Regions from separate parts of the Homo sapiens genome. Here region 1 is linked to region 2. The links come from fine-mapping of genetic effects on gene expression. A gene starts in region 2. The other region holds a variant in brackets. All regions are shown on one strand. Distances are from middle to middle.

What was found.
Region 1: its variant is fine-mapped to the expression of LINC03007 in lung (TOPMed, PIP 0.97).

Annotation. Positions count from the first base shown.
Region 1 is chr7:25,849,782-25,858,857 of GRCh38, reverse strand. No RefSeq gene overlaps it. Among named protein-coding and RNA genes, the nearest start is that of LINC03007, 64 kb to the right of the region's middle. RefSeq lists an enhancer at 2,041-2,120 and a silencer at 7,010-7,059. The variant A/G (reference allele first, on the strand shown) is at 3,757.
Region 2 is chr7:25,784,486-25,793,561 of GRCh38, reverse strand. It overlaps LINC03007 (long intergenic non-protein coding RNA 3007), which reads left to right and starts at 3,443. Exons shown (of 5, transcript NR_157808.1): 1 at 3,443-3,809.

The DNA of each region.
Region 1 (9,076 bases), 65 kb before region 2:
GAAGGTTTTTTTTTTTTTTTTGAGGCCGGACGGAATGGAAACTGCATCTGCACGGGATCTCTCCACAGTCTGGCCCGCAACACTGCCAGCACCTTCCCTAGACCCTCGCCTCCCCGCTTCCCCCGCACGCGGATTCTCGCGCATCCGTGCGCCCACTCAGCCCCGGGAGCCCTCCTGCCCCGGGAAGCCTCAGACGGTCTTGGGCTGGAGACTCACCCTGCGCCCCTGCAGCGGGCTGCGGGGAGAGAACCTTGGGGAACCAGGCAGGACCGGCAAGGGTGGACCGAGTGATTTATGACCCTGATCAAACTTTTTAGGAAGCAGAAATTAACCTGAGGGAGATTAGGCCTGAGCTTTGAAGTTCACGGTTTTGTTTTCCTTCAGCCCAGTTCTGCCATCAGATGGTTCTTGGTTCCTTCTACCCCTCTCCTCCTCCCCCTCCTTCGGTCTCTCGTCACCCCACTTTATCCTCCAGCAACCCCTCCTGCGTTGATTTTCTTAATTTCAAATACAAATATCTGAACACCAGAAACTGAAGTTCCTGACAGTGACCTATTGAACAGAGGCATCGCATACTCCCTACATCCCAGTCTTCTTGGAATTGCGTTTTACGTTTGAAAGTGCGATTTTGGTTTGGAGGTCGGGAGTAGAAAATTTGTATCTGTTCTTTTCTTTTGCTGTTTCCTACTTGCCTTTCAATACCCATACTTATTCCGCCCTCGGAGACTGGCCCTTCCCGGCAGAGCAGAAGCGCACGAGGGTTGAGTAACTCTGCAGGTGAGAGCTAATTTTTCAGCGCATCCACCAGATACCTCAGGTTTGTGGATTTTCCCCCTAGTTGGCCAGAAAACTCACACCCAAACATGCAAGTCCTCTATGGCCTCTCCGTCCTCTTACCTTGGCCCTCTTTATTTCCATATCTCCCTCCTCCCCATGCAGATCTCTAAAGGGAATCTGTCTCCTGCGGTTCTTTCCCGCAGGCGCCTGCTGAAAAGGCAATTTCCTTGGGGGTGTGCCTAGGGAGAGAGGAAAACAGAAACCAGGATTGTTTGGGGGCCTGAAACCATCCAAATTTTATTGCATCCGCTACAAAGTCAACTAACTCTTAATGAGCATCCAAGCGGAAAAAGGCCGAAGTTTACTCCGTGTTAGGGCGGGGAATGGGGGTGGGGGTGATGGGAGTTTGCTTATTTCCTTCTGGTACAACCAAAGGTTGCAACACCTTCCTGAGAGGCTCCTCCCAACGCCAAGAGTACGGACGCGAAAGTCAGAAGGCATCGGGTTTCAGCCCCCTGAATGATCCAAGATCACTCCGCCACGAAGACCTTCGAAGTTGGCCCTGTCTACAGCTTGTAATTAAAAGGATAATGTGTCTTGTAATAAAAAACAAGACCCACACAAACAAACCCAGCGTCCAACGGCCCTCCACCTCGCCACACTCTTCTCTAATAAGGGCCAGTGACAAACATTGCCATCCAGTTTAACCCAAAAGGAGGAAGCAGTAGATCTTCCTTTTAATAACTTCCCAAAGTGTTACAAATAATAAAAAGGACGCATAAATCATCGCGGGGGCGGCAGAACGGGGACGACAGAAGGATTTACTCCTCTCTAGCCCTGGCTTCCAACCGCGCTCTCATTGGCTACTTCCTTGTGGCCCGCCCCCGAATCCGCTCTCTTATTGGTGCGTCTGGTCCCAGACGCAGAGACAGGGCGTAGGATCGGTGGGGGCTGGAGTCCACCAGTGCGCATGCGCGCTATGGCGCGCATGTATGATTGACAGCAGGGAGAGGTGTTTGTGCGCGCGCGCGTGCGTGCGTGCGTGTGTGTGTGTGTGTGTGTGTGTGTGTGTGTGTGTGTGTCTCTCTCAGGGTTGAGGCAGCGAAGGTGGTGGTGGCGGGGCGACGGTGAAAGTGGTGGCTGTGAGTGCTGGAGCTGAGGCCGCTTTTGCCGCCGCGGTGAGGTGTAGTCCTGTTTGCCGGCGTTTTCCGCTGAGTCAGAAGCGCTGGTGGTCACAGACTGCGCTCTCACCCACACTGAGGTCGATCTGGAAGGAATTTACTGAGGGGGCTCTCCAGCAGCTGGCTAACCGGGAAGGAAGTAGAACTAGAAGACATGCTTTACTCTTCCTGAAGAAGATACTTAAGCCCCTCAAGAAGAGATTTAATTTGAGCGCTGTGTTGATTTGTGCATTCCTTGTAAAGCACACACTAAATTAGCTTCACATCCCAGCCGTACCTTCATCTGCAGCACACATCTCTCCCCCAGCTCCTCTCAGCACTCACTTAGCCCTGTTCAGTTCCCCTGTAGGCACAGGTACACATATATCAGCCTCTTGTAATCATGAAGACGAGGGACGAACTTACAAAGACACCCGGCACACTGTGACAATCCTTAACTGGGAGAAAAAAAAAAGAGAGAGAGAAAGCAAAGAAAGGTAGAATAAGAGCAAGAAAAAAAGAAAAGGAAAGAAAACTAGAAAGATGCAGCAACCAGTAAAACGATGGTGGCAAAGATAAAATGCCGATGGAAAAAATCCGTTAAATGCAAAGTTTGAAAAAAACTTCCTAACTCGGTTAATGCTGTGGAAATAATTCCAGTTCATCTCAGTGCTAGTGAACGCCTAGTACAAAATTCTTCAGAGGCGAGGGCTGGCTTAGTGCAGAGGAGAAACGTCGCTCCGTTGCCCTGTTGCATCCAAATTCTCCTTTCAGACAAGTTTCCGCGGCGTGATGGAGATGGGCAGAAGTCTGGAGAGTGCTTTCCTATTATAAGCTGTTAACTTGTTGGTTTGTACTCACATATATTTTAAAGAAATAATAAACATCTTATAGTTCTGCACATATTCTAAATTACAGTGGTTCTAGAAGAATTTTGTAACTGACAAATTAGAGCTTCGGTTTTACGAATTCTGAATTTTAAAACCGGTAATGACTTCTCAGTCCCTGAGATCCTCTTCTTTGTTTTTTTATTTTGGGGTGTGTGGGTACGTGTAAGATGAGAAATGTACAAACACAAGTATTTCAGAAACTCCAAGTAATATTCTGTCTGTGAGTTCACGGTAAATAAATAAAAAGGGCAAAGTGACAGAAATACAGGATTATTAAAAGCAAAATAATGTTCTTTGAAATCCCCCCCTTGGTGTATTTTTTATCTTAGGATGCAGCACTTTCAGCATGCCCAAGTATTGAAAGCAGTGTTTTTACGCTACCACGGTAATTTTATTTAGAAACCCCATGTTCACTTTTAGTTTTAAAATGGTCTTTATGACATAAAATTATCAGCATTCATATTTTTGTGTTTTAATATTCCTTTGGCTACTTATTGAAACAGTAAACATTACGAAAATTAGTAAACAAATCTTTGATAGTTGCTTATTTTTGTTTAATTGAATGTTTATTTTATTAGGTAAATATACAATCAAATTTATTTAAAAATAATGAGGAAAAGAATACTTTTCTTTCGCTTTGCGAAAGCAAAGTGATTTTTCATTCTTCTCCGTCCGATTCCTTCTCTTCCAGCTGCCACAGCCGACTGACAGGCTCCCGGCGGCCTGAGGAGTAGTATGCAAATTTTGGATGATTGACACCTACAGTAGAAGCCAATCACGTCAAAGTAGGATGCTGATTGGTTGACAACAATAGGCGTAAACCTTGACGTTTTAAAAACCTGACACCCAATCCAGGCGATTCATGCAAATAAAGGAAGGGAGTCACATTACCAGGGGCCAGAGAGACTTGAGTACGACCTCACGTGTTC[A/G]GTGGTGGATATTGCACAGACGTCTGCAAGGTCTATATAAACGCTACATAATGTTCAACTCAATTGCTTGCCTTGGCCTTTCCCAAACTTGTCACTGGAATATAAATTATCCCTTTTTTAAAAATAAAAAAATAAGAATTATGTAGTGCACATATATGATGGTTCATGTAGAAATCTAAATGGACTTCCAACGCATGGAATTTTCCTATTTCCCCCTTTCTTTAAATTAATCCTCAGTGAAGGAGGCTGTTTTCCCCTAGATTTCAAAAGGACGAGATTTACAGAGCCTTTCCTTGGAGAAACCCGCTCTAGGCACAGATGGTCAGTAAATTTAGCTTCTTCAGCGAAGTTCCACATGGCACCGCCAGATGGCATAAGGATCCCCTTCTCACCATCTCCACCCCCACCTTGTACCCTGCAAGTAATTTAGAAAAATTGAAAACCAAACACTTTTATATTTTATAACTAAATGAAGTGAGAACATACTGGCACTGTTAGAGAGCCACATATTACAAAAATAAGCTTTGTTGGTTGTTGCTTTAATGTGAAACTTCCTCCGGAGATTTTGCCCAGGAAAGTTTGCGAGTAAAATATTCATCCAGTGAAAGTGTTTGCAAAAATATTTCCTTAAGCGAAGTAAGCACCTTAAGCACGCTTTAAAAAGGTAAGAGTAAGAGGCCGCTGCGTTTCTGAGCGTGGTGTTTGCAGGGCCGGGCGAACTTTTTAGGGACTAAACTGAAATCGAGGGGGAAACTCAGTTTCCCAGCGAGTGGTCTCACTGGAGCAGAGCCTGGCCGGAGCCACAGGGCCGAGGTTGCATCTCTGCTTTCTCTGCTTTCCGATCCAGTTGCTGTTAGAGCAGCGTTGCTTTTTTAGGAATTCATTTTGGGGTCCCTATGACAGATAGGCAAGACTTTCTTTCCACTCACAAGTCACTGTAGTAGGGGGCAGAATCTTTGTTTTGCCAACCTCGGCGGGGGATTTGAGGGTGGAACCCTGGAAAGTGTAGACCTCCACTTCTCATCTGCCTCTCCTTTTATATCTGCTTTTCTGTTTGGGTTTATCAGGAAGAGAAGGGTTCGTGCTGTCCCCACATCAAGGTCAGAATAAGAACTTACGGTATTTGCAGAGGGAGACGGGAGGAAAGAAGAAAATACTGTACTCAAGTGAGAAGTTTCACAGCTTTAGATGTACATTTTTACATTTTACAGGTCGACAGCTCTCTAGCTGGGAAACTTCATGACTTCTTCTCCCATTTATACAAGCAGAATAATTGCACACTCACTTTTGATTACTCTACCCTATAATTATGCATTTTAAAATTGCAACCGGCCTTTAAAAATAAGTCTACCTAAAAAAATCTTTCAGAATACAGCCATTAGCCCTCATTTTACAAGAAGGTGGATTCATTGGATCTGTTGTTTTGTGCTCTGTCGGTTGACTTTTATTTAGCCAGAAACTAATGAGTTGGGTGCCGACGTTTACTTATATCTCCCTCTGACATCCTAACTGTGGGTGAATTTTCTAGCCCAGCACCAGATCCTTAGTGTCTGCAGGGCAAGAATCTGCACATTTTCACCAGCCCCTGTTTCTAGTGACCAACTTCGCAGGCTGTAGGAAAACTCATCCTACCCAGGCACATATAAGCAAAAAAAGTAGTAACACTTTTTAGTTTAGAATCAACACTTCTGATTCGTTAGTTCAAGTTGAAACCATACGTTTCTTATTTTATTTCACTATCTGGCTTTTTTTTCCTCTTGAAAAAGATCGGAGGGTATCAATAGTAAAACTGAAGTAAGAATTGCTAAAAGTAAAGCAAGAATTTTAGGGGGTACTTTTTTCCCTTAGGTGGTAAGAAGGAAGACCTGAAGGAACGAGTCTTTTAAAAGAGAACCTTAAGTTTCTAAGCACAATCTTGCTCTCTTAATATTTGTCTTCTGCCCTGCAGAAAACGGGGCAAAAAGTGTTTAAACAAATGGAGATGGGACCTGTGGGCTGTCCAGGCGTGGCTTAGGACTCGGGAGCTATCAGCTCCCCTCCCGAATCTCTGCTTCTAAGTCTCTTTTGCAGCCCCCCAGTAAAGGCGGGCCCCAGGTGGGAATTTGGCGATCCCGGCGCGTGGGGACGACTGCGCTGGGGCGCGGGGCGCTCCGGGTGCAAAGGCCCAGGCACAGGGCGGCGGGCGCAGGGGCAACGGTCCCAGGGCGAGGGATGCCGCTGTCCCCAGCTCTCCTGAAACCCACTCCCGGGCGAAAACGTGGGCAGAAGGCGGGAAAACGCCGCAGCCGGCGCTCAGAGCAAGCTTCCAGCAGACGCGGGAAGTTGAGGCTCGGCGCCCCCGCCCCCACCCCAGCGCCCAGTCTCCGCTCCCCTTCAGGGCCTCTTCCGGGCTGAGTCCTGGGAGTGGGTTTCCCCGGCCGCAGTGATTTTGCAAGAGTGCGGCCGGCCGGCTGTAAATCAGCCTTTCTCCACTCCCGGGGGGCAGCCCTCCCGAGCCGGGGCGGGGGCGCGGAGGACGCGGGGGCCGGGCCCATGGCCACCCTAGGCCCTCGGCCGCAGCTGGATCGGCCGCCTCCGGCGAGGCGGCGGGGGTTAAACGCCGTGAATCCATCAATCAAGCGCACCGCCGCCCTCGCGAAACCCGGAGCACCGCCCGCGGGGCCTGCTTTGTGTCTCGCCCGCCCGCCTGCCCGGGGCCTGGGAAGCAGGGTCGGGCCGCTCCAGAGTCCGGGGGGCGCGGCGCATTCCCACGAGGGGCCGGGGCGGCCTGAAGGCTGCTCCACCCAGTCCCACCCTGTAACGGGTTCACTGGGGCCTGGAACACAAATCTCCCAGGCTGCTGGTTTCCTTATTTGATCACTCCTTTGCGTCTTCAACAGAATAAGGCCAACTCATCACACTTTCCCGGCCGCCTGGAGCCCCGAACCCTGTCATCCCCCAAAAGCAGCATGACCAGGGTTGGTGAGATTAGCCATAAACAACCAGATGATGTGACTGGGCAAATCACATCATCTCTCTGTGCCTCAGTTTCTCGTCTGTAGAAAGAGGGGGCTGTTTTAGGATCTCCGCATTTTTTTGTACAGCTCTAATGTTCTTTTGTTTTAGGTGGAGAAGCCTGAACCCTTTTTGCCGGACAAATGTCCCCAAGTTCCCTTTTCTTCCACGTTTATTTTCGTACTGCCGGTTCCTTCCCTCCCCACCCGCGAGTCAGCCCCACTGCGTCCCAGAGAGCAGCTCCAGCCCGCAGGGCAGGACACCTGAGCCTCGGAGCTGAGCCCTGGCCGCGTTTGTCTCGGAGAAACCACCAGGGGGCAATAGAGCCCAAGGATAGAGGAGCAAGGCTCCACAAGGCCTTTCCAAAAGTTTGTCCAATTTGGCGTGAATTCCTTTTTCCAGTTTGTGTGATTTGTAAATTGCGCAGAGTGATTTCAAGATCCCCCGTTTGATCATTAGCGCTAAGGTAGATGGATGCAGCCCGGGGTTCATAAAGAATGAGGCACAAAAGCACTAATGAAGAGCAGGCTAGCGCACCCGCAAGACCTAATGGCAGAACAAAATGGGGCGAACGTGAACAAAGCTCACTTGAAGTGCAAAACTTTGGTTCTAAGGCCATGCATACAGTGGGTTCTCAGGCCATGGGGCAAAAGGCATGGAAACAGTGGGCCGCACGCCGGTGTGTCTTTTCCTAAGTTTTGCAAATATCGGGTTCGTTTTGCGATGGTGAAGTGGGAGGTAGCCCGGGAGGTGAGAGAATGCAGAGGAAATCAGTTAAGAGAGATTCTCCTGATAGGAAGAGGAGGTGGCGAAGGTTTAGGTTAGAGAACCCCAGTTCTTCATGCAGCAGCCACCTTCGCCCATCCTGGGAAGTTTCTGTCTGCCTGTAGAGCAGAGCCGCATCCCTGCCGCTGTCTCCGAGGGCAGTGTCGGATGGTTCTTTCATTTGTTTCCTGAGAATGGTTTACAATATAGATTAGCGGGGCCCCAGAGGAAACTGGGGTTTGCTCACTGCAAACAGCCAAAAGATCTTCAAGAGAGAACGTGTTAGGCTGGAATATCATCTTTTCCCACATGTGCAAGACTCTTGGATTGTGTTTGCTTTCAAAATCCATAAATGTTTTTATTAAACTATATCTTTCTTGTGGCCCCTGCGCACACAAAGTACTTGCAGCATATGTAAACGCTTCCATTTTGGTTCTCCTTCAGGAAAATTTTGTAACTCCGCAGTAAATATTTGCTCTGGGGTGAACCTTGGCAAGCGATAAACTCCAAAATCTGGTTTCACTGTACGTGTTTGTGTGCACATGTGTATGTTTTAACAGTATGTATATATTGGAAAATTTGCGGGAGAGCTTGATATTTTTACTTCTTTGCTGCGCCGCAGGAAAGTATAATGACTGTAATTACTTGGATAACATTTTAAAATTAACCAAATTCTCTTTCACATTCGATTCTTCCTTGTGTGCTGCCAGCCCTTCCTCCCAAATCATGTCAATTAAATATTCTTACAATGTCACCCTTTATAATGCCTTTAGTGTAGTGATTTTGGGGGTATATTTTAAAGTGATAAAGTGCAGTTTTGCTTCCTAAATTCTGTCTTAATAATAAGAATGTAAAAATTAAACAAATCATGATCTTTATTATTCTTTTATGTTTATAGTTTCTTTTCCTCTAATGCTTTAATCTGTAAGCCAAAAAATTTCAGAGAGATAAATGGAGACAGCTCAGTAGCATGGCAGGCAGAGTCAGGATTTTGGATTCTCATCCCTGAAGAAAAACTTGAAGTTATTCCTCTGTGATGAAAAATACTTTATTTTTATGAAGAAATGGAATCTGCTGAGGTTGAATAAATTAGAAAACTCTATGGAAGATCATTAAAATATGAAAACTGTTAGCATTGGGCTGTGTGTTAGTCATCTTTAAGAGAATAATCGGGAATTATTAACTGACTTTGACCTCATGAGCCTTGACATAATAACTGTGGCATTCGCGGTGTCCCTGGTGTTTTAAAAACCACCCTCCTCCCCCGCGTGCATTACAAAAATATGTCCTCTTCCTCTCATGTTGATTATATGGGTTTTATTTATTCTAATGACTGCTGTAGAGAGAGAAAATGCAGCTCTGAGCAGGGAGAAACAAGAACCCTTGTACACGTTTGCTGTGGGGTGGGCTGGCCACATAAGTTGAGTAGCCTTTGGCCAGATAAGCAAATGCACACTTCGCCTCCCAGTGAAAACATCATCCCCAACAAACATCATGTGGGCCTGAGTCACTCTCTGGAGAATCTGCTTCTCAGAGTTTGGTTTGGCAGTTCAGGCAGATA
Region 2 (9,076 bases):
GGATAAATCAACAGAACAGAATAGAAAGTCCAAAAATAGACCTACACATATATTGTCAATTGATTTTCCACAAAGATGCCAAGATAATTCAAAGGAGAACAAACAATGTTTTCAACAAATGTTGCTGGAACAATTTGAAAGCTATATGCCGACCGGGCATGGTGGCTCACGCCTGTAATCCCAGCACTTTGGGAGGACGAGGAGGGTGGATCACGGGGTCAGGAGATCGAGACCATCCTGGCTAAGAGGGTGAAACCCCGTCTCTACTAAAAAATACAAAAAATTAGCCGGGCATGGTGGCTGGCGCCTGTAGTCCCAGCTACTCGGGAGGCCGAGGCAGGAGAATGGCGTGAACCCAGGAGGTGGAGCTTGCAGTGAGCCGAGATCACACCACTGGACTCCAGCCTGGGCAGCAGAGCGAGACTCCATCTCAAAAAAAAAAAAAAAAAAAAAAAAAGAAAAGAAAGCTATATGCCAAAAAATAAAAAAATCAAACCTTGACTCCCACTGGCTCTGTGACCTCACCAAGTCTCATTTTGAATTGTAACCCCCACATGTTGGAGAAAGGGCCTGGTGGGAAGTGACTGGATCATGGGGGCAGATTTCCTCCTTGCTGTTCTCGTGATAGTGAGTGAGATCTGGTTGTTTAAAAGTGTATAGCACTTCCCCCTTCGCTCTCTCTCTCTCTCTCTTCTGCTTGGCCGTAGTAAGACGTGCTTGCTTCCCCTTCCCCTTCCGCCGTGATTGTAAGTTTCCTGAGGCCTCCTATCCACGCCTTCTGTACTGTCTGTGGAACTGTGCGCCAATTAAACCTCTTTTCTTCATAAATCCAGTCTCAGATATATCCTTATAGCAGTGTGAGAATAGACTAATACACTTTACTAGGAAAAAAAGAGAAAATGTTATGACCCTGTGATGGGAAAAGATTTGTTAGTACACAAGGAAGAGTCATTAAAAATGATTAATTGGACATCATCAAAATTTTTAATAAAATCTGCTCTTCAAACATGTTCAGAAAGTGAAAAGCCACAGAGAGAAAATAGTTGCAAAATACATATCTAGCAAAGGAACTGTGTCCAGAATATATAAAGAACTCTCAAAACTCAATAAAATAAAAAATAATTCTAAAAAATGGACAACTTATTTGAATATGTATTTAACTCAATGAGAGCATATAAGTACCTGAAATGATGCTTAAGATCGTCAATTATTAGGGAAATGGCAAATCAAAACCATGATGAAACACTACCACACACTTACAGAAAAGCTAAATTTTGGGGGGGATTTTTGGGTGTTGTGATTCTTCTTTTCATATTATTTCTTTATTGAAAATAAAGATTGTATATACTTATGTAAAAAAAAGTTGTTAAGGGAAAAACAATTGCATCATTTACACAATTTATTTGGCATGTGATTATGGGTTATGCTAAAAAGTCAATATAGTATAATTTTTATCAAATAGTTTATTCCTCTATTTAATGCCATTCTTCTCTGCAAATGTGTTTGTAGTATTAATTTTATATCAAATTATTTATAAACAATAATAAATTACAATGTTCTGGAGCACCTAACTTGCCCTAACCCATTTAATCTTCACCCAAATTCCCATTTTACAGATAAGTAAACCAAGGCTGGGAGAGTTAGGAAGCTTTCCCCAGTCACATGATTAGTAACGAGAAAAGCTTGAATTCAAACTGGGAAGTCAGGCTACAGAGCTGGCATTCTGACTACTTTAATGACAAAAGGAAATTTCTGTTTAGTCTGTGCTTCTCCATGTGCACAGGTCACAGGACCACAGATGATAAACCAAACCAAATCCATGTTACTTGTAATACACATTATGCTATATATTCTTAAATAAAATTTATTCATCAAAGATTAAGATGTTAAAGATGGCAACAATAGACACTGGGAACTACAAGAAGGAGGAGGGAGGGAGAGAAGCCCGGGTTGAAAAACTGTTGGGTACTATGCTCACTACCTGGGTGATGGGAACATTTGTACCCCAATCCTCAGCATCATGCAATATACCCACGTAACAAACCTGCACATGTATCCCCAAATCTAAAATAAACATTGATACTATAAGGGGAAAATGATTAAGATGTAATCATTATGGTAAATATCTTAGGGTGTGGGAGGGTCATAGCAAAACAAGATCAGGTCCTCTCCCTTAAGAAATTTATAATTTGCTTGAGGAGATAAAACATGTAAATGGGAAACATTTTTTGAAAACCCAGTAAAAGCAAAGCCACTAGCAGCCCTATTTAAATGTGCTGGCGAACAAGAACCAAAATCATGTCCTGGCTGGCTGGGTTTAGCTAGGAAAGCTTTTGAGAGAAGGGACACACATGGATTAGCGAAAGCTGGAGGGAAGGCTTTAACAATAATAAACCCTGGGAATTATAGCTAACATTTGTTTGTGTTACCATGTTCCATTCACTCTGCCAACTCCTCCATGTGCATGATCTCATAGAACCCTCACCATAACCCTGTGAGCCAGGTACTATCGTTATCCTCATTTTAAAATATAGCGAAACTGAGTCATAGAGAAGGTTAGGCCACATGTTCAAGGTTACTCAGCTAGTAAGCAGAATGGGGATTCATACTAAAGTTGGCTGACCCTAAAATCCAAGTTCCCAACACTATGCCTGGGGTTTATCCCATTTAAAAAATGTTAAGCTTTGTCATGTACCAAATACACTGGTAGGACAGAAAGAGCATTTACAGGGTTCTAGATGTGAGAAGGTACTCTCGGGGGCTCAGGTGACTGAGTGCATGTGTGTTGAGTTCCTGCACTCAGGTGACAGAGTAGTTGACCTGGCATGGGGCATTTACAGACATGAGGAGCTCAGCATGCCCCACACCAGGAAATTCCCAGTGTCCATTTTGTCCAAGCCTGATAATTGCAGTAATTTCCACAGGGTGTCTTTCCTGGGGCCATACGTTATCAAGGTACTGCCAGCAAAGTGAAGGTTGGACTATAAAGTGGCAGTCTAATCTTAAACCAGTGAAACAGCAGGGAAAAACGTTCACAGAGTTTGTTCACATCAGCATAATCTCAGTGAATCATCCCCAAGGACAAGCCCAAATGAGCAGGAAAGGCATGTGGATGAAATATAATCATCAGATGCAGTGGAAAAGACATGAGAAACCAGCGAAAGCAGCTGAATGACATTTTCTGACCAACCTTTGGTCATCGTTTTGGCTAAGCGTCCACAGGCACACCCAAAGTCCCTAAGTCCTGGGAGCCCACAAGGAAGAAACAGGATGTGTGCATGTTTATTTTGTGTGCACGCATGACTGTGTGTGTATGTGCGTGTTTAAATTCATGGCCAGCAACTCTGTTGTATGTGTTAAATGGCTGAAAGTTAGGAGAGTGCCAGGCTCGGCTTTAATTGGATTTTCTAAAGCATAAATAAAAGGTAGGGAAGGGAGATGCATTCTTTGATGGATGTCTTCCCTCAAGTGTGCACAGCTGGCTGAGTCCCTCTCTTGCCTAATTAAGGGGCTTTATTCTGCTCACGCTCAGAGCTGCTGCCTGCATGCTTGTCTGGAAGCCGACATCAAGCCCATTTGGCCAGAAATACCTCTAGAGGTGGAACTGGCCCAGAAGACTGGACCCCCAGAGTGCTATGGAATGTCTATGGGAACAAAGGAGGACCTAATGGACAGCAGAGAAACACGATGCCCAGCTCTGGTCTGGTAGGAGGTCCCTAGAAGAATGGCTTCAAGTGAGACTTAGAAATACACCCAGTCGGTTAGCCTTTGGGAAGCGTAATGAGTACTACCTCCAGTAGTTTTTGAAGGTCAGCCTTTGTTGTGAAGGGAGGTGGGATAGGGGTGGGCTTTCAGGGGCTGGGAGAAAAGAGAAACCATCCTGCCGTCTTGCCCTCTACTGTCCATTTTCCTCACCAGGACCAGGTATAAGGGAGGCAAGTTGGGCAACGAGGGAGACAAAATTTCAGGAGCTGCTCACTGTTGTGTACTTGCAGTACTGTAGCCACAGGGATCTTTCAAACATGCATACATGAGTGTGTCAAAGACAGAGACCAAATGCCTTAACAGGGCTCTGTCAACCTGGGGATCTCTCGAATGTAAAATTCAGATTATAGGTCAGAAGGGAGAGTCTGAGAGTCTGCCTTTCTAATGAGCTGCCAAGGTGATGCTGATGCTGCTGGCCTGGGGACCACAGAACAGTGAGGGTTCAGGTGCCAGCAGAGTCAGGATGTCAGCTGGGTCTGACCTACAACCTGTTTTTGTAAATAAAGTTTTATGAAAACACATTCATTTACATATTGTCCATGGGTGCTTTCTAGTTACAGCAGCAGAATTGAATAGTTGCAACAGAGTGCATGACCCATAAATCCTAAATTACTTACTGTCTGTCCTTTACAGAAAGGTTTGTTGATCCCTCTTTATGAAATCTGTCTTTGTTTATCGCCTGTTAATTACATTTCAGCCAAAAGCCATGCACTTTCCTTTCTGGGGCTTTGCAATTAAGATTGCCTCTGCCTTGATGTTCTGTCCTTTCTCTTTTAAACTTTTGCCTTGCTTCTCTGATCTCAGCTTAGATGTCATTTCTTCCATGATGCCTTGCTTGACTTCCAAAGACTGAGTTAAGTGACTCTCATATATGCTTCCAGGGAGTCTCAAACTTCCCATTGTGACGTGAATGGACACTTATTGCCCTAAATGGTGATTGCCTATTTCATCATCTAGATCTCCTGTTAGACCATAGGCTTCCTGAGGAGAGACCATACCTGTTAACTATTGAATCCCAAGCACCAGGCACACAGTGTTCAGTTTTAAAGTTGATGACTTTATGACAACTTTAGAACCTTTCTTATGTTTAAGCACTCTGAATGGAGAGACATCTTGAGATTCCAGAGAAATTCAATCTAATCTACTTACCAATACTGGTTTCTTGGAAGAGGATAAAATATTCAACAATGTCATCACACTCACCCAACACCACTCATGCTCACACACAAACACACACACACAGCTGCTCTTGGCTCTCATTTCTGGGTTAGGCAGAGAACTTACATACATTTTGAGATTAAAATCCTTGAGCATTTAAGAATGGACCTATTTTTTTTCTTAAATCTTCTGCACTGAGGCACTTTAGAGCTGTGGTAGAAGTTTCAACAGGAGGAGAGTAAAACTCTGTTTATAATGATTCTTGGATTGTATTTATTCCTGTTCTCCTTTAATAGGGAGAATGGAACTCCAGTTCAAGGGGCCATTTCAGGAAAATAATCAGCCATTAGGTCAACTGCCTCTTTCAAGAGAACAAGCAGTGGTTTACAAAGCTCATTTCCACTCAGTGGGGCCAGTGGAATCTTGGGTGAAAAGCCAAGGTCTGCCCAGTGAAAGCTGTGGGCTGGTCTGGGGTCTGGCTGCTATAGACAGGTGTCTGTAATTGCCTCAGGTTCTTTCTTGAACACTGCAGTATGCGCTTCCAAGGTGGCCCTTCTGCAGTATGCAGGAGGTGTCTAGTGGCAAGGCTTAAAGACTTTAAGCCAACCGTTGATTGAAGGTTTATAAGATTATCTTGATGAGATGGTCTGAGCTAACCAGATGCCTATCAAACCAATGATTCTTCAATTCCTTCCTGAGATGTTTAAACCACTGCCACAATGTTTGCACATCATGAGGCATTTACCTCTTTTCCTCACACTCTTTATTTCTGTTCATTTATGGTCAGTTCCACCAGGCCTCATTCCCTCAAGTTCGTCGTTAACTATCAGAACCTATGTGTGTCCAGGACCACTGCTTTTTTGTTATCACAGATGAGTGCTTATGACTTTTTAATATCATAGGCATTTCCTCTGCAATCTCTCTCACTTTCTTTTTGAAGTGAGAAAAAAGCTGCTTAGGAGAAATTATGTAACTCCAGAAACAAGAGCCAGCATTGGAGACATCCTGTGACAGTGAAAAGCCAAATTCCAGATGTTGGGTTTTGATTCTCCAAAGAAATGTGTTCAAGGAAGAGAGGGATTGGAGTCAGATCAGGAATTCATTAGAGATCTGCTGACTTCCCTTCCTGCACAGTTAAGTGCTCAGTATACGCAGCTGACACAGGCTTTGGGGGACAGGGCTGAGGTGGGCAGCACCCTGGGCCCTAGCTGCCCAGCAAGCTGCAGGCCTCTGTCTTTCAGATGCCTGGGACATTTTCCCTCCTGATGCTCTCAATAAATGTTTACTGCAGGACATCTGAGGCAGGACATACAGGACAAGGTTCTTGGAGGAGATGTAATATTATTTATTTTCCTTTGTGCCAGTCTGAATATGTCAAGTGAGTAATTTCTGGACTTTTGTGAAGTTTGACCTCTTTTTCTCTTTTTTTATGTGAAGTAGTTGCTTATTTCTCTGTTTTGGTTTTGTCATAGCTGGGATTTTTCAGGCCACACACAGACATACTTTTTAGTTTTGGCAAGGAGTAAACGGCCAAAGCTCATAAATTACATTCATAAATATTTAGTGTACTTAGATGTGCTGAGGATTTTTAAAGGAAAGGAAAGAAAACCAAGGCTGGGTAAAAATAAGCTTTAGCCAGAGAAAAACAAAATCCTTTCTTGTTTGAAAACTTGAAAGCAGTCACTGAGAAACAAAAATGAACTTTGGAAGTGTTCAAAGGAATCGTATTCTGCTCCCAATATAATAGCAAGGAAAACATCTCTTGATTTCAATAAAATTTTGGATTATGTGCTCCACAATGACAGGGTGAAGAAATGGTTGCATTTAAGAGTCAATGAATCATGGAGAAAAAGAAATGATGATCCTGGAAGCAGCTAATGATCTAATATAGAGCTGCTCTGGGTCACACAGTGGGTAGGAACCAGGGAATCTGGCTTCTCATCTTCCATTCTTTGGGGGGAAGCCTGCATTGTCCTCCGGTGTCTGGAAGAGACTTAGGTGTAACCCACTTTGAGAGACACTAAAGTACAGCCATTTGGATATATCAGAATGAGACAGGAATGATGCTTGCGTTGGCAAGATTCTTCACTTTCTAGGAGTGTATTCATCCCTAGATTTGTCTAGTAGCTGCTCTAGTACATTTAAAATAAAATTGAATTTCTAAAATATTGATTTTTTTAAAGAAAAACACACAAAAAACACAAAGCTTTTTAGGAAATGCTCCATTGCATAAAGAGAGATGTTCTTGTGCTAGCTAATTTCCTCTCAGCTTTATGAAGCTATCGGCATTGACATCATTTTGTCATTTTCCTGCTCAAAAACCTCCTGTGCCTCCCCATTGTCTATTGCAAGGTTTCTCAACCTTGGTGCTATTGACATTGATGTCATTGATTGGGTGGTTTATAAGCAACAGAAATTTATTTCTCATGGTTCTAGAGGCTGGGAGGTCCCATATCAAGGTGCCAGTAGATTTGGTGTCTCTTGAGGACCCACTTCCTCACAGACAGCCAACTTCTAACTCTAACCCCAGAGGGTGGAAGGAGTGAGAAGTCTCTCAGGTCTCTTTCATAAGGGCCCTAATCTTATTTGTGAGAGCTCCACCTTCATGACCTAATCACCCCCAAAGCCTCCACCTCCTAATACCATCATCTTGTAGGGAGGTGAGGATTTCAACATAAGAATTTTGGGGGGACATAAACATTCAGACCAAATTACATCCCCACTGAGTCATGACAACCAAAAATGTTTTTGGGCATTGCCAAATGTTCCCTGGAGGGAAAAATCAGTCCTGTTTGAGAAACACTGGTCTACTGAATAAAGAGTATAGATCTTTCCTTCTCCATTAATCTCCACCTCCCTCATCCTCTCCTTGAGGCATGTCTGCCTCCCAGTCCCCAGACATTTGTTAATGCCCTTTAGTTCTTTGTTCCTGTGTTTTCCCCCACTTGAAATGCATTTCCTCTTGCTTGTTCCTATCTAAACCTTACCATACCTTCAGAATACATTTCCAGTCCCAACTCTTTCGGCATTCCCAACCCCATTTGCTTTCCTCTTCCTAATACACATAGTATTTATAGTCCCTCTTGCTCTTTTCGAGACAACAGAAACTCCAGAGGTGTTTAGGGCCATCTGCAAGTAGAGAAACCTTGAGCTCCTGGAGAGACCCCTGGGGATGAATTAAGAACCCAGAGTAGAGATTATTGCTCAGGATAGCCCCAAGAGTTCCCTACACTCAGAGGGGAACAGATGTTGCTGAGAGAGGACCAGGCCCAATGAGGCATTCAACTGGGTTTGGCGATATTTGGTGGTCACTTGAGTAGATTGATGCTGAAAGTCCAGATGGGGAGAAGGAACATGGCCACTGGGGAAGGATGACAACCTTGAGGACCAGCTTCATTGGACGCTGATAACTTGCCACCAAATAACCCAATTTAGGCAGTCAGTGGCAACATCAAGATGGTGGCTTTGAGATTGAAGTACCATACAATTCTGTCAGATTCCCCTCTAGCCATTCTGATAAGAATAAAAATAAAAATAAAAATAATAACAATTATTAATATCATTCTATCACTTAGAGTGATCAACTGTCCCAACTTGTCTGGGATGGGTTGGACAGAGACCCTGAAATGTGGGGCTTTCTGCTGTGTAACTGAGATGGTCCTGTGCATACCGGAAAAATTGGTCACCCTACTACCATGATTACTACTACAACTACTGCTACCATTAATATTTTAATATTTTTTAATATTCCTCTTATTCTAATAGTTTCTAATATTCTCTTTTAGGTGCAATTTAAATTTTCTCAATTTATGCAAAGTTAGTTGAAAGCTACTTCAGAAAAAAATTTTTTTGATCCAAAACATATAATGCAACACACACACACCTTCCAGTGGGAACTGCCATCCCTAACAAAACTTCTTTTAGATAGAATTCTGGCATTGCTTGTTGCCAAGAGTTCTCAATATGACACTGGGCTGGGAAACTCTTCCCTCGCATTGCACCCATCTGATTTGGGTCAGAACACTCATGGTAATGAGGGTCTACAGTCTTGAAGGAATGTCCAAATATCTGAGTATGTCTTCTTTTCCATTTATGCAGCTTAGACCTCTTTTCTGGTTAAGTCAATTGAGTGATCCCACTTACATGGTCTGAG